3 separate regions of the Homo sapiens genome follow, and regions 1 and 3 are each linked to region 2. The links come from fine-mapping of genetic effects on gene expression. A gene starts in region 2. Each other region holds a variant in brackets. All regions are shown on one strand. Distances are between the middles of the regions.

Region 1 (8,184 bases), 110 kb after region 2:
TAGCTATATCCACATCCATATCCATATCTATATCCACATCCATATCCATATCTATATCCATATCTATATCTATATCCACATCTATATCCATATCTATATCTATATCCACATCTATATCCATAGCCAATCTATCCATATCTATATCCATATCTATATCTATATCCACATCTATATCCATATCCAATCTATCCATATCTATATCCATATCTATATCTATATCCATATCCATATCCTTATCAATATCTACATCCATATCTATATCCATATCCACATCTATATCCATATTCACATCTATATCCATATCCAATCTATCCATATCTATATCCATATCTATATCCATATCTATATCTATATCCATATCTATATCCTTATCAATATCTACATCCATATCTATATCCATATCCACATCCATATCCATATCCACATCCATATCCATTTCCAATCTATCCATATCTATATCCATGTCTATATCCATATCCATATCTATATCCATATCCATATTCAACCTATCCATATCTATATCCATATCCACATCTATAGCCATATCCACATCTATATCCATATCTAATCTATCCATATCTATATCCATATCTATATCCTTATCAATATCTACATCCATATCTATATCCATATCCACATCCATATCCATTTCCAATCTATCCATATCTATATCCATGTCTATATCCATATCTATATCCATATCCATATTCAACCTATCCATATCTATATCCATATCCACATCTATATCCATATCCAATCTATCCATATCTATATCCATATCTATATCTATATCCACATCTATATCCATATCCAATCTATCCATATCTATATCCATATCTATATCCTTATCAATATCTACATCCATATCTACATCCATATCCACATCTATATCCATATTCACATCTATATCCATATCCAATCTATCCATATCTATATCCATATCTATATCCATATCTATATCCTTATCAATATCTACATCCATATCTATATCCATATCCACATCTATATCCATATTCACATCTATATCCATATCCAATCTATCCATATCTATATCCATATCTATATCTATATCCATATCTATATCCTTATCAATATCTACATCCATATCTATATCCATATCCACATCTATATCCATATCCACATCCATATCCATTTTCAATCTATCCATATCTATATCCATGTCTATATCCATATCCATATCTATATCCATATCCATATTCAACCTATCCATATCTATATCCGTATCCACATCTATAGCCATATCCACATCTATATCCATATCCAATCTATCCATATCTATATCCTTATCAATATCTACATCCATATCTATATCCATATCCACATCTATATCTATATCCACATCCATATCCATTTCCAATCTATCCATATCTATATCCATGTCTATATCCATATCTATATCCATATCCATATCTATATCCATATCCATATCTATGTCTATACTCATATCTATGTCTATGTTTAGTGCCCGGAATATATAAAGAACTTCAGTATGAAAGGACAGCTGAGCCCCCACGTTTACTGCAGCACTATTCACGGTAGCCAAGAGATGAGATCAACCTCAGTGTTCATCAAGGACGCTGGATAAGGGAAATGTGGTTCATATGCCCAGTGGAATATTATTCAGCCACGAAAAGAATGAAATCCTATCATGTGCAGCAACATGGATGGAACCGGAGGTCATAATATTAAGTGAAATTAGCCAGGCACAGAAAGACAGATACTGCATGTTCTTATATGTGGGAGCTAAAAAAATGGATCTCATGGCAGTAGAGAGTAGAACAGTGGTTCCCAGAGGCTGGGAAGGGTAGGGAGTTGGAAAGAAGATGAAGAGAGGTTGGTTAATGGGTACAAAAATACAGTTAGATAGAAGGAATGTGTTCTAGTGTTCAATAGCATGGTAGGGTGACTATGGATATCAATAATTTGTAGTGTATTTCAAAATAGCTAGAAGATTCAGAATGTTCCTAACAAAAGGAAATGGTAAATGTTTGAAGGGATACATGTCCTAAAATCCCAATTTGATCATTACAGATTGTATGCATGTACCAATATATCACATATACCCCATAAATACGTACAATTATTATGTGTCTATTAAAAACCCAAAGTAAAAAAAGAAGGTGATGGCGTAGAAAAAGGTGCTCAACCACATTAGTCATCACAGAAATACAAATTACAATCACAGCATTACACCGAATCCAAGAGAGTGGTTCAAAAGAAAAAGACATCCCAGATGTTGGTGCCGAGGGGCAGCTTGGGGCCTCCCACAATGGTGGAGGGAGGGTGAATTGGTACGACCACTTGAGAAAGCTGGCAGGACCTACTGCAGCCAAACACATGTCCACCCAACAGCCCAGTAATTCCCTTCCCAGGCATTTCGCAAAGGAAACGTGTGCAAATGTTCACCAGGAGACTGCTCATGACAGCACCGTAATAGCCCAGACTGAAAACCGAGCCAAGCATCCATCCACAGAGGCATATGGATATATGGATGGTGCTTTGTTCATGAGATGGGCTGGGCTACAGCAGTGAGAGGAAGGAGCTATGACGTCATGTGGTGAGGCTCAGACTCCACGTGGGAGGAGAGAGGCCAGATGCAAGAGCGTACCTGTCGTGTAATTCCAAAGGAGGCCAGATTAACCTCTGGCGTTAGTAGTCAAGGTCGTCGTTGTCTTGGGGGTATTAATGACAGGAAGAGGTAGAAGAGGACTCGGGAGCTGGCAGTATTTTCTTCTTGATCTGAGAGCTGAGGACATGAAGGTACTCACTTTGTGAAAGTCCAAATGGAGTTGGACACATAGTGTTAGACTTTTCTTTATTCATACTGTACTGCAAGAGAAAGTTAACTTAAAAGAAGCTGATGCAACAGGGACCCCCAAGAAGAAGGTCTTGAGCCCAGTTGGGGGCGCTTACTCCGGGCTTGCATTCGTGCACTGTGAGGCTGAAAGTGGGACAGAGACCACATGGTTTTCAGAAGGTCGTCACAGCCATGGACATCCCAGCCACGGACTTCAGAGAGCGCCATGCTTCCGAACGCTCACTCTCTGAGAAGACACAGCACGGGGTATGGAGGGTCTGGGCAGATGACTTGTCCAAGGCCGCTCACAGGGAAGACCAGAGCTCAGCATCCCAGAGAACCCTGCCCAGTGCTCATTCTGAGATCTCGTCCCTGTGTGACTGGTGGCTCTGCCTGGGGACAGCGGCTATTTTCTTCCCTCTACTGGTGGACTTTGGAGCCTCCATCGTTCCTGGTCTGGGGTCCTGATGACTTGCCCACCTCCAGGCTGTCCTTGACCTGCCAGTCAAGTGGATGAAACATGTCAGTGCTACATCAGATCCCCACCCACTGAGAGCCTGGGGCCTGGGTGACCCCTGCAGAGCCAGACCAACTCAAAGGAAAAGAGCAACACAGTCCTAGGAGGCTGCTGTGGCAGGAACAGGGGAGTGGAGGCAAAAGGGGAAGCCTTGCCACCTCAAAGACCGGGGAGGGAGGGACTCAACAGTCTTGGGCAGAGTCCTGGGTCCACCCCTCGAGATCCTGTTCAAGTAGGCCGGGGAGGGTGGGAGCCCAGGACTGCTTTTCGCCAAATGCCGCAGGTGAGTCTTGGGCAGGTGGGCTTCCTGCACAGCTGGAGGCAAGCCTGGGAGAAGGGCTCTCGGCCGGCCCTGCCTGAGGTTTCTTTATCGCGTCCCTGATGCCATCAGAGGGGCAGTGCTTGGGGGTGGCCAGAGGCAGAGTTTTGGGACGGGAGGAGGCTCTGCCACTCACTGGCTGAGTTCCTTGGGCAAGCTGGGCCTTTCAGATCTTCAGTCTCCCCATATGGTAGGGCCTCCTCTCAAGGCTTCTTTGGGGATAGGAGTGAGTCTGCAGCAAGCAGCTGCCCACCCCACTGCACTCCACTTGCTGAGAGGGAGACAGGAAGCTGCTTTCCCATCCAGCGATGATCACAGCTCCATCCTGGACCTGCAAGGTGCAGATGTGTGAAGACCACGTGGGTGCTTGACCACCTGTGGCATTTGCAAAGCAGTGAGAAGAGTGAGGCTGTCCATGCCAGGCTGTCTGGCTGGTCCCCAGAGGCCACACCCACAGGTTGCCTGGAACTGGGGGCTCCTTACTTATCTCTGCCCCCAAGCTCTGGGTGTTCCTCCCCTTCCTGCCTTGCTGCTACCCTGAGACTTCCCCACCCCATGCCCAGCCTGCGGTAGACAGTCCAGGCCTTCACACACCCCATCCCCAGGGCCTTCTCTCTTCCCTCTGATTAACAGTAGCAGGGCCTGAGCCACAAGTGGGAGGCCCCAGAGGAGGAGGTGGA[A/G]TGTGAGTGTGGTAGAACCTTCCAGGCCCCCCCACCCACAGGAAACACCTGGCCTCCAGGGCGCTGGCTTCACATAGGAGCCCAGAGGAAGCCCAGGACTTCAGGGCCAGCACCTGCCAGGAAGTCCTGGGTGCCAGGGGCTCTGTGGGGAAGGAGGGCCAGTCGGCCCAGGTGGCTCATGGTAGGTCACTGGGGAGGGTGTGACAGAGCTGTCCTGTGGCTGTGCTGGGAAAGAAGGGACCATATGGATTCACGGTGGGGAAAGGGGGCCGGAGGCAGGAGCACCCAGGCCCTGGGTGGTCAACAAATGTGCAGGCAGGAGGGTCCTGGCTGAAGCTGAGGGCACTACTTCTGGCTTTCATGGAACCTTCTGGGACTGTACTGAGCCCCCTCCTGACCCCAGGGGTCTATAATGAATTTGCCTGTTCCAAGATGACCTGTGCGAGGGAATTGCAGCCTCTTCAGGGTGACAAGTGCCAGCCACCCCTGTGGGGTTTCATAGGAGGAGCTGATGGCTGCCCTGACGGTCACTATGCAGTCCCCGGCACCTTGTCCACCCCACTGGGCTGGGGCTCCTCCACCTTGAAGCCCCATGTGTCTGTGGATGAGACCAGCTTCTTGGCTTTTTTCCGCCCAGTCCTTCCCTGACCCTCGGGATGGAGGTGCGAAGAGAGACCCCACAGCTGAATGGTGAGAGCTGCAGCCGTGTCCAGAGTCCACCCTTAGCCTGTGACACCTTCCCTGCAGCCCCGGGAAGCAGAGAGGCCCAGTCCCACCCAGGGGGCCACCTGCGGGCAGCTCTGCGGATTCTCTCCCCACCTGTTTCTCTAGTGTGTCTTGACAGACAGAGGAGACAGACGGCCCCTCCTCAGCTCCCCAGCTGCCAGGGGCTCTGAGTAAAATGCAGTGCCTCTTCCCGCAGGCCTTCTGGGGACAGTGAACTTACCTTCCTACCAAGGGTCATTTCGACAGGAGACAGGAATGATTCTCCGGCCCCAGAGAGGAGCTGCCCCCACGGTCAGGCTCCGACTGACTGAGCTGAGCGAAGGCTAGAAAAACAAGAAGGAAGAGCCCCCCGACACCCTGCAGGGCAGGCCCGTGAGGTGGGGGCTGACTGAGAGGAAAAGGGGGGGCATAGGAAGACATAGCCCTGAGACGTCCTTAGAGGGGCAAAGCAGCGGCCTCAGGAGGTGACCTGCTTGGCTGCTTGGGTCTTGTCCTCCCTGGGTTTTTCTTATCTTTTCTTTTCTTCCTTTCCCTTCGGTTCTCTCTCTCTCTCTCTCTCTCTTTTTTTTTTTTTTTTTTTTTTTTTTGTGAGATGGGGTCTCGCTCTGCCACCCAGGCTGGAGTGCAGTGGCACAATCTCGGCTCACTGCAACCTCCACCTCCTGGGTTGAAGTGATTCTCCCACCTCAGCCTCCTGAGTAGCTGGGATTACAGGGGTCCGTCACCACACCCAGCTAATTTTTGTGTTTTTAGTAGAGACGGGGTTTCGCCATGTTGGCCAGGCTGGTCTCGAACTCCTGACCTCAGTGATCTGCCCACATTGGCCTCCCAAAGTGCTGGGATTACAGGTGCGAGCCACCATGCTTGGCCTCCCTGGGTTTTTCTGAGTAATTTTATGAGGCAGTTTGCAGCAGTCTGGTGGGGAGAATGGCAAATACCCCCCAGTGCCGTTCACTGGACTTGCCCAGTGGAAGAGGGTGGGTGACCAGCACAGGGTGGTGGTCGGGGAAGCCTGACCCCGGTGACAAGCAAATGGCGAGTGGACAAGTAGAGAGAGCCTTTGGAGAAGCATGGGGAGGCAGGCCTGAGCTAGGGGGGACTAGCAGCGACACAGGCTCCAGCGGTCACGGAAGGCGGGCTGGTGGGTGTCCTATGCTCCGGGGCCGGCTCTGTGTTCATCAGTTGTGTGACCTGAAGTACAGGTTTTGTTTTTGTTGTTTTTGGTAAATCAAGGTGAAGCTCACAGCTCAAAATGAGCCGTTTTTAAGTGTACAATTCCTGGCATTTAGTATATTCAATGTTGTGCAGCCACTACTTCTGCAAGTTCCCAAACCTTGGCATCACCCAAGAGGAAACCTCGTACCCAGTGGCAGTCAGTCCTCCTTCCTCCTCCTCCAGCCCCTGGAAGCCACCAATCTGCGTTGTTTGCATGCATTGCCTCCTCTGAACAATTAATAAAAATGTAATCAGTACTTTGGGAGGCTGAGGCGGGCGGATCACCTGAGATCAGGAGTTCAAGACCAGCCTGGCCAACACGGTGAAGCCCCCTCTCTACTAAAACATACAAAAATTAGCTGGAGGTGGTGGCGAATGCCTGTAATCCCAGCTACTTGGGAGGCTCACGCAGAATGGCTTGAACCTGGGAGGCAGAGGTTGCAGTGAGCCGAGATCGTGCCGCTGCACTCCAGCCTGAGTGATAGAATGACACTGACTCCATCTCAAAAAAAAAAAAAAAAAAAATGCAATCAGGTTAAATGGGAGCTTTTGCCTGTGGCCTGTGGCCTCTCTCACTGAGCTTTATGTTCTTAGGCTTCATTCATCTAAGAGCTTCATTCCTCTTTAAGGAATCATATTCCGGTGTATGGATGGACCAAAATTCATTTGTCCATTCATTGTTTGATGGACATCTGGGTTGTTTCCACCTTTTGGCTGGCATGAATAATGCTGCTATGAACGTGTGTGCACATGTATTTGTTTGAGTGTCTATTTTCAGGTTTTTCTGGCTATATTCATAGGAGTGGAATTGTGGATTATATAGCAATTTTATGATTAACTTTTTGAGGAATCACCAAATTGTTTTCCACAGTGGCTGAAACATTTTACATTTCCACCAGCAATGTGTAAGTGTTCTAATTTCTCTATAACCTCACCAACGCTTATTTTCAGTTTTAAAACAAAATTATAGCTGTTGTCGAGCGTGTGAAGTGGCACCTCAACCTCATTGTGGTTTTGATTTGCATTTGCCTGATGACTAATGCTGGTGAGCGTCTTTTCGTGGGCTTCTTGGCCACTGGTATGTCTTCTCTGGAGAAATGTCTACTTACGTCCTTTGCTTGCCCCTTTTTTGATCAGATTCCCAGGCAGGTTTTTTTTTTTTTTTTTTGAGACAGTCTCACTTTGTCACCCAGGCTGGAGTGCAGTGGTGCGATCTCAGCTCACTGCAACCTCCGCCTCCTGGGTTCAAGCAATTCTCGTGCCTCAGCCTCCCAAGTAGCCAGGACTACAGGCATGTGCCACCACAGCTGGCTAATTTTTGTATTTTTTGGTAGAGACGGGGTTTCACCATGTTGGCCAGGCTAGTCTCAAACTCCCAACCTCAAGTGATCTGCCCGCCTTGGCCTCCCAAAGTGCTGGGATTACAAGCATGAGCCACCGTGCCTGGCCCCGAGGGAGAGTTTTAAGCCTCTTTGAGCCTCAATTTTCTCATCTATAAAATGGGGATCATGATAGCGCCTCCTTGGTGGAAGGTGGCCAACCCTCCTGGTTTGCCTGAGATTATCCCAGTTTTTGCAATAGAAGTCTCTTGTCCCAGGAAGCCCCTCAGGCCTGGGCCATCTGGGACAGTTGGTAACCCTACATGGGATTGTCGAGAGGCTGAACCAATAGGGTGCATAGGAAACTCCTAGCACCGGGGACGGCCCAGAGTTCCTGCTCAGCCAATGTCAGCTCTTATTCATTGTAATCCTCTTAGACACATGTGCATGGTAGAGACCTCTGACATGTAAAAATGCAAAGGCAGAAATAAAAATCATCAATAGCCGACCACATGTGGGAAACATTTTGGAAGGTTTTAGTTTTCTTAGGTGATAGAACACTGAATGTGTTAATATAGAGAGGGGGAAGA
Region 2 (8,184 bases):
TCATTCCACTCTACCTTCACAATCAGCATTCTAAAGGCAACTATTTACTCCAAAGTTCCTAAGCCAACTAAATATAAATGTAAACCTGTTTCGAAATGATGTTAGTGTTAAGACATATGCTACTCGAAACCCACCCTCGCCCCCCGCAATAAACACGAAGGACGAAAATCTAAAACCAACACTTACATATACTCCAGGTTACTACCAGAATATTTAAATGGCAGAATCCGAAATGAAATTGTTAAGATTAAACCTTATGACAGACAGTCTCAGTATCAACCGTATTTAATTTCATACCTTAAAAGTAAAACCGGCCGAGCGTGGTGGCTCACGCCTGTAATCCCAGCACTTTGGGAGGCCGAGACAGGCGGATCACCTGAAGTCAGGAGTTCGAGACCAGCCTGGCCAACATGGCAAAACCCCGTCTCTACTAAAAATACAAAAATTAGCCGGGCGTGGCGGCGGGCACCTGTAATCCCTGCTACTCGGGAGGGTGAGGCAAGAGAATCGCTTGAACCCGGGAGGCGGAGGTTGCAGTGACCCGAGATCGTGCCATTGCACTCCAGCCTGGGCAACAAGAACGAAACTGTCTCAAAAAAAAAAAAAAAAAGTAAAACCGAGGTAAGGTCAGCAAGGTCTTTGTTTTGGACAAGAAGCACAGAAGAGTTACAAACAAGCTTTTAAAATCAGATCCTTATAATAAAAACGAGTGTGTGTGTGTGTTTACTATTACCGTTTTCTGAGCTATCAATTTCTCACGGCCTGACTATGCCTATGGTCAGGTCATGAGAAATCTGTATGAAAAACAGCTTCCAAGAATGTCTATTCTTATGAAAATAAATATTAAAAACTTTCTGTAGAAAAAAAACTTTCAGTATAGGTAAAGTTACAACTGTTCACATCATTACTTTGTTCTATTAATACACACAAAATTAATTCCGACAACTGAACTAGTCATTTTAAAAACCCTGTTTTGCATTATTTCCCCCAACAAAGCATCCTAGGGGTGCTACAGTGAAACATGCTCAAAGACCATTGCCACCTCTGCTGTTCTGGAACAATGTAAATTTCTTCAAGGTGCCCTCTACTAACCAAGTTCATCTGGCCTGGGGCTAAGTTTTATCATTTATTCTTTCATACAGTACTGAAGGAAATCCGGAATCTATGAATATCATTGCCAACACCCCCTACACATTTCAAACCAGCTACCACTGTCCTCTGAAATCACTCAAGCCAGGTTTCCAGGGTCTCAACTCATTCGCATAGTTATTCAATTCCAACTGCAGGAAATCACTTGCATAAAGTAGGCCTTATGCAGGCTCAAATTACATTCAGGGACGTACGAGGCTCTCACAGCGATCACCATAAATTGGCTACCTTGTACTGGCCGAAGTACGTCAACGTGAACACCAGACACTCGAGAAAAACCGAACCTCGGCTACACAATGGATTAACCCAGTCAGAAGGCTCCAACTTGCAACTCCTTAAAGACGCTGAAGTTGGACATCTACAGAGCACCATTTTGAGTTTAGAATCCGCAGTTCACGCCTAGAAATAACCGAGCGGACCACTCAAATGGAGGTTTCATTTGGCGGAGGCAAAGGTTTGAGACAACTCCACTAATTACGTGCAGAATCACCAATACCGTCAAATGCCTTCGAATGCAATAGGTGCAGCCACGATCTAGCGGCTCCTCCTCCCCTACCTCCCGGCACAACATCCAAGCAGCAAGCCTTCATTTTTGCTAAGATCCCCAAAGCTCCGTGTAACATGCTTGCCAGTTATTTCTTCCCCAGGTTAACAGGCAGGGAACCCCCACATCCACATCTGCACATTTTCATAGCTACGAATCAATTAATTAAATCTCGTCCTCAAGGTAAAGGTGCAAAGGAGGCACCGCTTAAAGCAGAGGCGGCAACCAGGCGCTCGGGTTACGTTATCTGATAACAGGACAGATGTTGTACGGCTCGTTTTCCTCATACGCATTACTCCGCAGTCCGCAGCACCGTTAGAAAATCCACCTGATTTCAGAGCCGCAGAGCGCCCAGGGGTCCTTCTCCGCCCACCCGCAGCACGCCCCGGGTTTTTCTCTTCCCCCAAACAACGGCACCGGGCTCCTGCACCAAAACACGGCGGGTTCGCGCCTGCCATCACCAGTGCAAAATCTGCGGGGGGCTGCCCGGAAAGGACCGAATTTCACCGCTGCATGAGTTTTAAAAGGGAGGGGGCACATCCATCTTCAGCCCTCCATTCCACTCCCGTTTGATTGTGATGCACACCGGGCGTCTGCACAGCCCCGTCTCACACTAGCACACACGCGCCCCGGCCCCGGCCGCTTCCCGCCGCTCCCCTCAAACCCGGCCGGCCCGGGGCCTGGCGCCGCACGCGGGTCGCTAGGGGCCAGCGCCCGCCCCGGCTCGGCTCGGCCGAACAAAGGGCCCGCGAACCTCCCGGCAAAGTTGCGGCTGCGGCGAGGAGCGGGCGGACTGCCGCGCTCACCTGGGCTCCGTCCCCGGCGGCGGCGGCGGCTCCGCGGGGCTCCGGTGGCGCGGGCCTGGCGGCGGCGGCGGCACGAACAACCGCCCGAGGGCCTCGGGAGTGCGCGGGCGGCGGGGGCCCGCTCAGCGCCGGCGCCACGGACTCAGGTCCCGGCGCGGGCGGCGGCGGCGGCTGCGGCGGCGGCGCGGGCGAGTGGGCGGCGGCGCGTCCCGGCAGGTCCAGGTCCGGCCCCGGCAACGCCGCGACGCGTCCTCCTCCTCACGCCCGGCGGGATGCGGCTCCGGCGGGGTCCGGGTCCTAGGCGGCGGCGGCGGCGGCGGTGGCAGCTGCGGACGGCTGGGCGCGGGGCCGCTCCGCTCCCTCCGCCTCCGGCTCGGGCGGGCCCGCGGCTACTGCGACGGTGACGGCGGCGGGAGCGCGGCGGGCGCTGGGACTGCCCTGTCAGGGGGCGGCCCGGGCGGCGCTCAAGACTGCGCGGCGGCGGGGCCGGCGGCGGCGGCTACGGCTCCCGGGGCCGTCGCGCTGAGGTGCGGAGCTGCCACCGCGGCCATCTTGTTGCTCTAACTGACAAGAACCCCCCTCCCCCCGCTTCAGCCAGACGGGGCGCTCGCGCCCCCTTCCCCGCCCCGCGTTGGCCTCCAACAGGAAGTCGTCCCGGCCCCTAGCACGTGACTCCCACCGTATCTGCATACCGGAGGGCGAACTGGCCAATCGGCACTCTGCACCTGAGCTCCTCCCCCGCGCGCCCCTCCCGGCCCATTGGCTCCTCGGCCAGGCCACGCCTCCTCCTTTCCCCTTAATACCCGCCCGCGCTGTGGTTCCCTGCACCGCGCGGGGAGCGCGCCGGGGTGCGAGCGGTGCGCGCTCCGAGTGGCCGGGACGCGCGCCAGTCCTGGGAGCTTGCACTGCTCGGGGGGGTTACGTGGAGACTTGCGTGGTGTCCTTTACCGCCGCCGCCTGCCCTCCGGTCCCTGGGCGCTGTGGCTCCGCGTTAGGGTGCTGGCGGGAGGGGTGCCGATCCGGTTCTGCGCGTCCGGTGGGTTCTCCGGGCCAGCGCCCCGCGGCGCCCGGGCTTTATGCTGTAATTGCGCCCGGCGGCGCCCGGCGCCCGCACCGGCGCGCGTCTCGCCCGTGCCGTGCACACGCCCTGCACCGCCCCACTTTGCACACGCACACGCACACGAGTCCTTGGGGCCCTGGAGCATCGTGCTCGCCTCGCGCCTCCCGGCCCGCCCTTGCGCTCAGTCGCTCCCCAGGGAGCGCCCAGCTGCGAGCAAAACAAGCCTCGCTGCGAAACAGTCCCCCGGGGAGACAGCCCTTTCCCCGGAGCACAGACACCACACCTTCACCGCGCAAGCCTTCGGTCCGGGCCGAACCCGGGCGCTCCGGCGCCTACGCACCCCACGATTCCTCCCCGGTGCTCCGTACGCCGCCGTGATCCTCCATTCCACGGCTCCTCGATATCCATTATTCATTAGTGGTAGGTAAGGTCAGGCGCAATGTGCAATTCGAAAAGTCCCTTTTTAACTTTCGGTTCAAGCCAGGAGAAGATTTTGAAACCAAGAATTTTCTCCATTTTCATGCAAGGTCGCAGAAGCAGGCTAGCTTTTCCCCCATCGTTCAGTGGAGGATCAGCAGTGCTACTTGGAAGTTGGTATTGGAAGAGGCCATTCCCTGTCTACGTGTCCCTGTCTTGAAGAGGAGATAATAACACACTAGTACTTTCGCAATGCAATTTTGTTACCGCAAGTGTCATGCTTTGAAACGACTGTGGATGAAAGAGACAAATTCCCCGCTCTCGTTTCCCTTCAGGGTCCCATGAGCTCCTTTCTTCTTACTGCCATATTTTAAGCCCTCCGGTAGTCAGATTCACAACCAGCCTCTAAAGGGTCGTCAAATGTCTGTTGTATCGTGTTGTGTATTTCCCCTCCCGAGAACCCACATCCCTTAGAAGGATCTGAAGGCAGAGGGAGCTGACATGGAGGCTTCTGCCTTGTCTATTCATTTTATTTACGTTCATTTAATTCTCGACTGCAGAGAACCTACATCTTTTGTATTTCTCAAAGGTAGAGGTATTATCACATGCTCCAGAAGGGAGTGCAAAATAACATCTTCAAAATAGGCAGCGCCCACGAAGTAGACTGCTGCTACATAAATGAGGAATCCAGGTATCTGGGTGGACCAGAGTGGACCAATCATTGTGATAAGCAGAGCTTCACTTTTTGGAAAATTGAACCAAAATACATTATTTAGCATTGTCTTTGGTTCCCTTTCTTATCCCCCTCCCTCAGTTTAATCAGGCAAAAATCGTCCTCTTCTCCAATGATATTAGACTCTGAGCACCGAGAAAAGGCAGAACTATAGAGACTATATGTTCTGAACCCCAAACTGGACTCATAGTTTGGCATGTGGACCTGTGACAGTAGAGATAATGTTTGAAACTAAAGTTGACCCAGAAACATTGAGGCATATGGTGGCCATGAATGTTAAGACTGCAGAGCAGTGTCACTTATTAGTGGTTGTTTGAACTGATAAAGTATGAGTAGGAACCCCAGGCACAACTGTAAAAATGGGTACGTTCATGTTTCGGGTTGGTCATCCTGTTATCAGCCCTGCCACCACCACCTTATAACTAAGGTATAAGTTGATCATCTATAGGGCTGGGCATGGTGGCTCACGCCTGTAATCCCAGCACTTTGGGAGGCCAAGGCAGACGGATCAGGAGGTCAGGAGATGGAGACCATGCTGGCTAACATGGTGACATCTCTACTAAAAATACAAAAAATTAGCCAGGCATGGTGGCGGGCGCCTGTAGTCTCAGCTACCTGGGAGGTTGAGGCAGGAGAATCCCTTGAACCTGGGAGGCAGAGGTTGCAGTGAGCAGAGAAGGCGCCAATGCACTCCAGTCTGGATGACAGAGCTAGATTCTGTCTCAAAAAAAAAAAGGGTAAAACCAACAAAATTACGTTTAAGAGGACTAAATGTTAAATGTGTCTCTTAAATTAAAATGTCAACTAGTTGAGGACAAATGAAGAAGACTTAGCTGGATACAAGGTAATGTAAAAAATTCTAGTTATAGATGACCACACGTTCAACAAGGCTAAATGTGTGAACTGCTTGAAGACGACAACAACACTACGTTAAAATAGTGTCCAGTTTAAGAGATTGCACTCTGAGCTGGTCAGATCCCAAATGGAGTGTTTTGGCCAGTTCTGAGCACCAGGGTGCAAGAAAGAAATCGACAAAGTTAGAGACTGACTCAGAATACAGCCAGTTGTTGATGGAAATCCTCCAGTCTGACCAACAGCTGAAGAAGCAGAAGAGATTGGTGCAGGGAAGAAGAGACAAGCAGGCCAGGATGGCTCTTTTCAGATATTTTTGAAACTCCTGTATGCAAATAGGTACAGATATATTCTTTGAAATCCTGAGAAGCCAACCTGAGATCAGTGGGTGGTAGATATTAGGCAAATTAGTTCAAATATACACTGCACCCTACAAAATGGAGTTTCTATCAAATGGAGTTATTAATAGAAACTCCATTTCGTAGGGTGCAGTATATACTGCTCAGGTGATGTGTGCACCAAAATCTCACAAATCACCGCTAAAGAACTTACTCATGTAACCAAATACCACCTGTACTCCAACAAGCTATGGGAAGAAAAAGAAACTCCATTTAGAAAGGTAGCAAGATCCACATCTGTGCAGGGGTTTAAGTGGAAAGACAGGATGATCACGTCCCTATCTCCATGACTATTGCAAAACAGATTACTGTGTTGACTAGCTCAGGGTTTCCCAAAGTGTGTTCCCCCAGACCAGCGGCATTGGCTTTACCTAGGAGCTTGTTAGAAGGGCAACTTCTCAGACCCCATTGCCAGACCCAGTGAATCGAAACCTCTGGGGATGGGGCCCAGGTATCTCCATCTTAGCCAGCCCTCCAGATGATTCTGAGGCGATGAAAATTGGAGGAGAGTAATAAAGACACCTTTTTGAGGGCTGTATTTGCGTATAATACCCCTCTCCATGCCCAGTCACTTCCTACCACACACTGGTGCCTGAATTACTCCATCCTCCTATTTCTGTTGATTTTACACGTATAATTTGCATCCTAATGATGGACTCTTAAAGGGAAAACCTTCAGGACTCCAACAAATGATTGCTTTTCAATGAAAATGTAAGAAAGCCGGGCTCAGCTCTCCCTGCTTGTCACCGATAGATAGCAACTGAACTGACTTAGAAAAATGTGATAAATTTACAGAGGCCTTTCAGACAAGCAGCAAGGCACAGGGCGTCGGTTCTCAAACTTTCTGTTGATGAGAATCGCCAGGGTAGCTTGTTTGAATTACAAATTCACCTTAGGTCCAGATGAGGCCCATGTATCTGCATGTCTAATCAGCTCCCCAAGTGATTCTGATGCCTTTGTCCTCCCACTATGCTGATAATAATATTGGAATAGAGACTAGAACCTTACAATAAAAGTAAGGGTGAGTCTCAACTCCACTGCTCACTAATTGTTTGACCTTAGGCAAGTTTCTGGGCCTCTGACTTCTCCTTTGTACTCCTCACTGAGTTAGAGATACTTGCTGAATTGCCGTGTATTACGTGCCAGGCAGCGAACTAGGTGCCAGGGATTTAAAGCTGCAAGCCGTGCTTGAGCTATGATTACAATGCATGGAGGTGCTGCAGGAGACAGAAGAGACTCAGGTCATTCTGAAGGGCTCAGGAAGACTTCTCCAAGGGCCTCAGATCTGAGTCTTGAAAGATGCAAGGGAAAGCAGTAATAGGTCAGAAGCTGATGGAAGGGCACTGAAGAAAGAGGGAAAGGTCAGTGTAAAGGAAACCCAAGAGAGCTTGCAGCGCAGCACTTTCAGGGGGCTGGAAGACATTAGTGGGGCTGCAACAGCCCAGGTAAGAGGAGATGGGAGAGATGAGCAGAGGCCAGATTATTATTATTATCTTTGTTTTTTGGAGATGGAGTCGTGCTCTGTCACTCAGGCTGGAGTGCAATGGCACAATCTTGGCTCACTGCAACCTCTGCCTCCCGGGTTCAAGCAATTCTCCTAACTCAGCCTCCCAAGTAGCTGGGGCTACAGGTGCGCACCACCACGCCCGTCTAATTTTTTGTATTTTAGTAGAGATGGGGTTTCACCATGTTGCCCAGGCTCATCTCAAACTCCTGAGCTCAGGCAATCCGCCCGCCTTGGCTTCCCAAAGTGCTAGGAGTACAATTGTGAGCCACCACACCCAAGGCCAGATTATGAATACAAGGAGCATTTCATGTGACCTTAAAGAGTTGGTACTTTATCCTTAAGGCAATGTGGAGCTCTTGGATGATTCCAGACATTATTACACTTGACTGTTAAAGAGAGCTCTCTGGAAACATTGTAGCAGATGACCTGGAAGAGGAAGGGCCAGGGAGGAGGTGATGGCAGGGGGTAGGCGGCCTGCACAGTTCTGCAGCCAGGAAACTAGAACTTATGGAATCCCCTAGAGTAGCAATAGAGGTTAAACGGAGAAGACCTGCTTGAAAGATAACTTTAAATTCAGCTCTGGGGGACTTGGGGTCTGACATATCTGGAGGGTAAGAAAATGGTAAAAGATGTTGCCTCGTTGTCTTTCTCAGTGAGAAAGGATGGATGGTGAGGAAGGGACTGTGGAAGGAGGAGTAGGCTGAGCTCGAGTCTTTGG
Region 3 (8,184 bases), 96 kb before region 2:
AATTAATATCAACAAGCATAGGACAAAAATGATTGTACTGTAGCATTCGTTCCTTTAAAACAACACACACACACACACAAAAATGTAATTCAGAAATCATATTTTATAAGACAGGAGAGATCAATACCCTTAAGTGGTAATGATCCACAACTTAAAACCCAAACTCTGACATAAGTGAAAATTCTATAAATTCAGCATAGGTCAACCTATGCTGAATAAAACCTAAAAACACCAACTTTAAAAATAGCAGAAACTTCATGAAGTAGTCACAAGTGGAAGGCTTTTGTCTGGGAATCCCAGTAGCTATGGAAAGCTGCGCAGGCATTCAAGCCAGTGGGCAGCACGGCCCAGCAGGTGCTGAGACTGCTGCTGCCCTTGCTGACCCTGACTGCCCAGATGGCACAGTCCCCAGAGAGGAGGGCAAGGGGCTGCCACCGGGGGTAATGCCACTCCTGCATGCTGTCACCTCTATGAAGGGAACTGGTGTGGAACTGTTACTTCTACAGGCTCAAATAATAGCTTGGTCTAACAAGTTTGGAGAGTGAAAGGCTATGATTACTTGTAATTCTTAAGGGTGATGAACTTTGCTCTCACTGCAAAAGAAGGCTTGGTTCATGTCTGAGAGTTAAACATCACAGGTAATACAGGGCAGGAATAATACTCAGTGTAGCCACTTTATGCCAGTGGTAGAAAAAGAGATTAATGTTATAAATGAAAAAAATGAACAAATAACCCCATATGTTGTACAATATACTAAACTTAACATACTTTCAGCATGTGAGCACACTTCCACATGGAAAAAAATTTGTGTAACTTTTTATTTGTCTCTTTTAATTGGTAAAACTAGATTTGCAACTGCTCCTATAGTATTGCTACACCTACAAAGAGCACACGCATGCACAGGCTGCAAAAGTTGCAGGGGAGAACAGAGTACAGAAACACTCTGTTAAGGTGTAGCAGTTACAGCACATTTTTCTTCTTTATATTTGGTGATAATATGTGCAATTTGTTTAAAAAAATCTATAAATATTTTTCATATAAAAGAGAATTATTTTGGCCCTTTTAACTGAACAAGAATGCCTTTCTCAGCATGAAGCTCCCATGTTTTGGCTACTAAAAACAAGTTAAAAGTAGTTTCTGGGCCAGGCGTGGTGGCTCACGCCTGTAATTCCAGCACTTTGCGGGGTCGAGGCTGGCTGATCACAAGGTCAGGAGACCGAGACCATCCTGGCTAACATGATGAAACCCCGTCTCTACTAAAAATACAAAAAAAATTAGCCGAGCGTGGTGGCGGGCACCTGTAGTCCTAGCTACTCGGGAGGCTGAGGCACGAGAATGGCGTGAACCTGGGAGGCGGAGCTTGCAGTGAGCTGAGATTGTGCCACTGCACTCTAGCCTGGGCAACAGAGCAAGACTCTGTCTCAAAAAAAAAAAAAAGTAGTTTCTGGGCCGGCCATGGTGGTTCATGCCTGTAATCCCAGCACTTTGGGAGGCTGAGGTGGGTGGATCACTTGAGGTCAGGAGTTCCAGACCAGCCTGGCCAACATGGTGAAACCCCATCTCTACTAAAAATACAAAAATTAGCCAGGCATGGTGGTGATCGCCTGTAATCCCAGCTACTTGGGAGGCTGAGGCAGGAGAATCGCTTGAACCCGGGAGGTGGAAGTTGCAGTAAGACGAGATTGTGTCACTGCACTCTAGCCCAGGCAACAGAGTAAGACTCTGCCTCAAGAAAAAAAAAAAAAAGTAGTTTCTGGCCAGGCATGGTGGCTCACACCTATGATCCCAACACTTTGGGAGGCCAAAGTGAGAGGATGGCTTGAGGCCAGGAGTTTGAGACCAGCCTGGGCAACATAGCAAGACTCTGTCTCTAAAAGAAAAAGTTTCTAAGGATCACGTATCAAAGGGGAGAGATCCCCCAACAAATGCAATGTGGTTCTAACCTCTGTAGGGTGTCATGGATGTAATATTTTAGAAATGTCAGCAGGTCATGGTATATATTACACATCTGAGACTTCACCATCTCCCTCCCACATATGTACCCTTGGAAAGCTACTTAATCTCCTAGGTCTCATTTGTAAAATGAGGCCCAAGGAGCTGTAAAAATCCAATGAGGTGATCCATAAAAATGCTCCATACATGACTGCCAACCATGGCCAGACCACATTTATTGCACGACTCCAGTGCCAGGCATAGGGCCCTCTGTAGCCTGAACTCTTCCAGGAGTTGGCATTCAAATTGGGACTATCCACTAAGGGTGGATGGGACACACAAGCCAATTTAAAATAGTCATGGGCTGCATAATGACGGTTTGGTCAACTGACTGCGTACAGGACAATGGTCCCCTAAGATTATATATAATGGAGCTGAAAAATTCCCATCACCTAGTGACGCCATACCCATCATAATGTAGCGGAATGCATTCCCCACGTGTTTGTGGTGATGCTCGTGTAAACAAACCTACTGTGCGGCCAGTCACAGCAAGGTCTAGCACACACAACTGATGATGCTGATACAAGACTATGTTACCAGTTTATGTCTTTACTGTACTTCCTGTTATTGGATCTCCAATGGGACAACGTGTGGAGGTGGACAACAGTGATACTGAAGATCCCGGCCCTGTGTAGGCCTAGGCTAACGTGTGCGTTTGTGTCTTAGTTATCAAAAAAGTTTAAAAGGTACAAAAAAAAAGCTCATAGAATAAGAATATAAAAAATACTTTTGTGAAGCTGTACAATGTGTGTTTTAAGCTAAGTGTTACTGAAGAAAGTATCTTTTAATCTTTTAATAAATGTAGTGTGGCCTAAGCGTACAGTGTTCACCAAGTCTACAGCAGTCTACAGTGGTGCGCAGTACTCTGCAGTGGTGTACAGTGCTGAACTCTACTTTGCAGTGGTGTACAGTAGTCCGCAGTGGTGTATGGTAGCGTACAGTAGTCCGCAGTGGTGTATGGTAGCGTACAGTAGTCCGCAGTGGTGTATGGTAGCATACAGTAGTCCGCAGTGGTGTATGGTAGCGTACAGTAGTCTGCAGTGGTGTATGGTAGTGTACAGTAGTCTGCAGTGGTGTATGGTAGCGTACAGTAGTCTGCAGTGGTGTATAGTAGTGTACAGTAGTCTGCAGTAATGTATAGTAGTGTACAGTAGTCCACAGTAGTCTCCAGTAGTGTACAGTAGTCTGTAGTAGTCTGCAGTGGTGTATAGTAGTCTACAGTAGTCTGCAGTAGTCTCCAGTAGCGTACAGTAGTCTGCAGTGGTGTGCAGTAGTCTGCAGTGGTGTATACTAGTCTACAGTAGTCTGCAGTGGTGTATAGTAGTCTACAGTAGTCTGCAGTGGTGCGCAGTAGTCCACAGTGATGTACAGTGCTCTGCAGTGGTATACAGTGGTGAACTCTACTTTGCAGTGGTGTACAGTAGTCTGCAGTGGCGTGCAGTAGTCTGCAGTAGT[A/G]TACAGTAGTCTGCAGTGGTTTACAGTAGTCTGCAGTGGTGTATAGTAGTGCACAGTACTCTGCAGTAGTCTCCAGTAGTGTACAGTAGTCTGCAGTGGTGTGCGTAGTCTGCAGTAGTGTGCAGTAGTCTGCAGTGGTGTGCGTAGTCTGCAGTAGTGTGCAGTAGTGTCCCAAGCCTTCACATTCACTCACCACTAACTCACTGACTCACCCACAGCCACTTCCAGTCCTGCAAGCTCCACTCATGGTAAGTGCCCTATACAGGTGCACCATTTTAAATATTTTATACCATATTTTAATGTCCCCTTTTCATGTTTAGATATATAAATACTTACCATCGTCCTACAACTGCCTACAGTATTCAGTACAGTAATATGCTGTGCAGGTTTGTAGCCTAGGAGCAACAGGCTGTACCGTATAGCCTAGGTGAGCAGGAGGCTATGCCATCTAGGTTTATGTAACTATACTTTATAATGTTAACACAATGCTGAAATTGTCTGATGACACATTTCTTAGAATGTATCACCATTGTTAAGCTATGCATGACTGTATTAATTCTGTTCCTGGAGCTTTTTTGTTTGTTTGTTTAAAGAAATGGGGTCTCGTTATGTTGCCCAGGCAGGCTTTGAACTCCTGGGCTCAAGCCATCCTTCCACCTCAGCCTCCCAAGTAGCTGGGATTACAGGTGGGGGCTCTCAGATCACTTTCTGCATACCTTTACTATAATGCTAATTAAACTCTATTAAATTTGATATTACTAGCCTGTCCCACTAGACTATTCCTTACTTAGGAATAATCTTATTTTTCTTTCTTTCTTTTTTTTTTTTTGAGACAGAGTTTCGCTCTGTCGCCCAGGCTGGAGTGCAATGGCCCCATCTCAGCTCACTGCAACCTCCGCCTCCTGGGTTCAAATGATTCTCCTGCCTTCACCTCCTGAGTAGCTGGGATTAGAGACATGCGCCACCATGCCCGGCTAATTTTGTATTTTTAGTAGAGATGGGGTTTCACCTTGTTGGTCAGGCTGGTCTCGAACTCCTGACCTCAGATGATCTGCCCGCCTTGGCCTCCCAAAGTACTGGGATTACAGGCATGAGCCACCACGCCCGACCTAATCTTATTTTTCAAATCCCTTCATTTTCCTTCTTCCTGCTTCTCCTTATCCCCCCAAGTACTTTATAAAATGTAAGGGCCTAGAAATATTAGTCATATATTAGTAAACAATTGGAATCACAAATTCAAGTACTCCAAGGAACCAGTCAGTTAACGTAAACAGGCCCAGCGTAAGAACAGCAGCGCAAGCTTGATGATGCTCAGTGGCTACTGATCAAAAGCCTCAGTGTTGGGAACCGTCAGGGGTCGGGGGGCAACGTGACATGGTATGGAGAAAATGCACAGGCCCTTATGAAGGCAAGTGGCTCTGACTGACTGCTGCCATGTGAATCCAATGTCAGACTTTTCAGGTTTCCAAAGGAAGCCAGAAATCTGGAATTTAATATAAAACATTTGCATTAAAAAAATGCCAATTCACAGAAAAAATGTGGGCCAAAAAGGCACATTTGTGGGACTAGGTGCAGCCCACGGACCACTGATTTTTGACCTCTGGTTTAGTGACACTGATGCGTTAGCTGGAGGCTAAAACTGTCTTGAGGATCCATAAAGGATTCCTGATGTGGCAGCCTCAGAGAGGTACACAAGTGAACCACCAAGAAGTCTACGAGGAGGCTGGAGGGCCCAGCTGGTGGGCCAGGGGAGGTCCTGTAGGGCAGTCATAATTGAATTAATGCAGCAGGCAGGACATTCTCCTGTTGAACGCTTATGACAAAAACCAAAAAGGTGCCCAAATGCCCAGGCTGCCCTACACAAGATGGTGATTCCCCAACTCCAGTGGCCCCCGCATGCAGACCTTCTGGGCTTACTGTTTCCTCCCTGCACCATCACTGCCCAACACTACGTATATACTTTAATTCGTGTGTTGTTTGCCACCCTCACTAGATCTAGACCCCTCCATGGCAGGGTTTTGACTGTTTTGCTTCCTGCAGTTTCCCCAGCTACTAGAGTACAGCCTAGTACATGGCAGGTCCCAATAAATTCACTGTGTATGGTGATCTCTGGGCCCTGACATTGCCCAGCAACCCTCCAGGGGCCCCAGTCAAGTCAGTTCTCTGTTCCTGTCCTCTACATGGGCTAATGCATGCTCCCTCTCTACTCGTGCTGCTGCTCCTAGCCAGCCCTCCTCCACTCTGGGCTAGTATTCACACTCCCAGAGAGAAAAGAACCCCAGAAGGTGGCCTTGGCCCTCTGGCCATGACAGCCTGGCCCACCTGTGCAGCGCTCTTTCCTGCTCCTTGCTTCACGAGATGGATGAAGTGCCCTTGTCCTGCTGGACACAGGGATCTCTTCCCTCTTCATTCATTCTCATCTCCACTTGTTCCTTTCTAACAGCTCTGAAACATGCTCACGACTTTGCCACCTTAAAATCTCTCTACTCTGGACCTTGCCCCTCTGGCTGAGAACTGGTCTTCCGTATCTGGGACCTTTTATTGTCCTCACTGGACACTTGGAGCTCTGTGCCTCCTGCTGTGCTCATGGGCATGTCAGTGAACTGACACAGTCATCTGCCAACTTGCCCAAGTTCTGAACCATGTCTATCCTATCTTCTTTGCTCCTGTATCCAAATGGTTACGAAATCTTGGAATCATGCACTGTCATTGCTTTCAAATCCATCATCTCCACCCCAGGCCACCACCGCCACCACCAAAACATTCGCTTGATGTTCTACTGAGTGTGCTTAATATATTTTTTTCTTGAATAGAAAACCACCAGAGGATCCTACTTTGCTCTCACTGGATAATCTTTAGATACAATATTGCACGGTGATAGGGAACTTAAATTATTTTAATGCTATTTGCTATAAAAAACACTACTCGGAGTATTCATGAATATATAATGAGAATAAGCTTTTTTTTTTTTTTTTTTACTTGTAAAGAAACATGAAATACCTTTCCTACCTGGACCAAGCAACGGTGATCGATTCAGCTGAGTACCGGCCTGGTGCGGGGGCGGCGTCTCGACCCTGTGTGTGGTGTTGCTCGTGGTAGTGGTGGTGGTGGTGGTGGTATTGGTCGTGGTACTGCTCTGGATGACCGGGTTGTTTCTATCCCACATGTTTACAGTTTTATTGTTATAGTTGCTTGGGTCCCCCCAAGCTGAGGTACCATCATCAATTTCCATTTTGCGGCGAATGGACGGTGGAGAGGGTTCTTCCCAGCCAGTTGCTTCACTGCTGTCCTTCTGTTTGACCGGTACCGGCCCCCCGATCCACCCTGTTCCTGTCTGTTTCACAGAAGCAGCTCCTCCCCAGTTACTCACATTGTTGTCTTGGGGTTTGCTAGCCCAGTTCTGTTGGGGGCCAGGTTTTAAAGTCTCCCCCCAGTTTGTACCTGGATTGGCCTTTGTATTTGTGCTGTTGCCCCAGCCACTGTTCCCAGATCTCGTGGTGTCATTCCAACCAGACCCTGACCTATTACTGTCAGCATCCCATCCAGATCCATTTTTTTTCCCATCCCCCAAGTGTCCAAGGACAGACGATGAATCTGCCCAATCTCCCCCTCCTGCACTCCAGGCTGGATTTGATCTTTGTCCATCTCCCCAGTGTTGGGATTTGGGCTTTGGAGGCTCACCCCAGGTGGGTGACTTGTCCTCCTGATTTGCGGCCCCACTCCAAGCATGGCCACTCTTGGCAGCAGCAGCAGTACTAACAGCAGTAGAGCTTATCGAGTCCCCCCAAACCCCCGGGCCACTTGGCGCTTTGTTGTTGCTGTCTCCCCAACCTGTGTTTGCTGGCACAGCGGCAGGTGGCGCGTTGACCCACCCAGATACTGAAGAGGTATTTGTACTGTTCATGATGGACCCATCGTTCTTCCCCCCTGAGTTTGAAGCCTGAGTAGCTGCACAACCCCAGGCCTCTGTCCCATTGTCATTTTTCCTTTCAGACCTAGGGGATTCTTCAAATTCCCAGGCAGTGTTTTGCTTTACAGGAGTCTGTCCCCAACCAGTATTAGACAGAACTCTTGGGTCAAGATCATTCCTTGGCAACTGGATGTGCCCTTGGTCTATAATCCCTTTATCTCGCCTTCGGCCTTCTCCCGTTCCTTCCCTCCCAGTGCTTCCTTCATTGTGGTTGCCAGAACCATCACTACTTCCTTCACTTGCTGTAGTTCCAGAAGATGCCGCTTTGGCCCAGGAGTTCATGTGTTCACCACCAGGCTGTACGGTAGGGTTCTGGCTGGTGACACTAGGACTCTCCCACCCTGTTGATCCTTTCCCATTGATGTCACTGTTGGAATGCTGGTTTGGGGGCTTTCCCCATTCCCCATTCACACCGTTAGAGGTGCTTCGGCTGGGGTGGCCCCAAGCTCCTGAATGGATATTACCAACGCCATTGTTGCCACTGCCCCTTCCCCAGGCGAGTATTCCAGGACCAGCAGGAGGTCCTGAATCCCAAGCATTTCCTCCACTTCCTTCCTTTTGCACAGCACTGCTGGATCCATTTTGTTTAGCACTTAATGCTGAGTTCACAGTGTCTCCATTCCCCTGACTGAACCCAGAATTGCTATTTCCTGTGGCAGGGTTACCTGGGGACAGTCCCCACACAGAATTGCTTATTCCTTCAGCACTGCCCCCACTGACTTGAGAAACTGATGATCCATTAGCACCAGGAAGGCCTTGCAGGTGGG

Alleles and levels. Alleles are on the strand shown, and positions count from the first base shown. SD is a standard deviation of normalised expression in the study named. Not every link is listed here.
For the expression in fibroblasts of the gene that starts at base 3,065 in region 2, A is the high allele of the variant in region 3 and G is the other (small effect, 0.24 SD a copy in GTEx).

What was found. PIP is the estimated chance that this variant, and not a neighbour inherited with it, causes the effect.
Region 1: its variant is fine-mapped to the expression of TNRC6C in whole blood (TOPMed, PIP 0.97).
Region 3: its variant is fine-mapped to the expression of TNRC6C in fibroblasts (GTEx, PIP 0.98).

What each region holds. Positions count from the first base shown.
Region 1 is chr17:77,842,861-77,851,044 of GRCh38, reverse strand. No RefSeq gene overlaps it. Among named protein-coding and RNA genes, the nearest start is that of LINC01973, 37 kb to the left of the region's middle. RefSeq lists enhancers at 3,643-4,292, 4,293-4,940, 4,941-5,590 and a silencer at 7,210-7,309. The variant A/G (reference allele first, on the strand shown) is at 4,335.
Region 2 is chr17:77,953,584-77,961,767 of GRCh38, reverse strand. TNRC6C (trinucleotide repeat containing adaptor 6C) reads right to left here and starts at 3,065. Exons shown (of 23, transcript NM_001142640.2): 1 at 2,500-3,065. RefSeq lists enhancers at 2,130-2,688, 2,689-3,248 and silencers at 2,921-3,380, 3,401-3,450.
Region 3 is chr17:78,049,721-78,057,904 of GRCh38, reverse strand. TNRC6C (trinucleotide repeat containing adaptor 6C) reads right to left here. Exons shown (of 23, transcript NM_001142640.2): 5 at 6,457-8,184. Among named protein-coding and RNA genes, the nearest start is that of TMC6, 75 kb to the left of the region's middle. The variant A/G (reference allele first, on the strand shown) is at 3,448.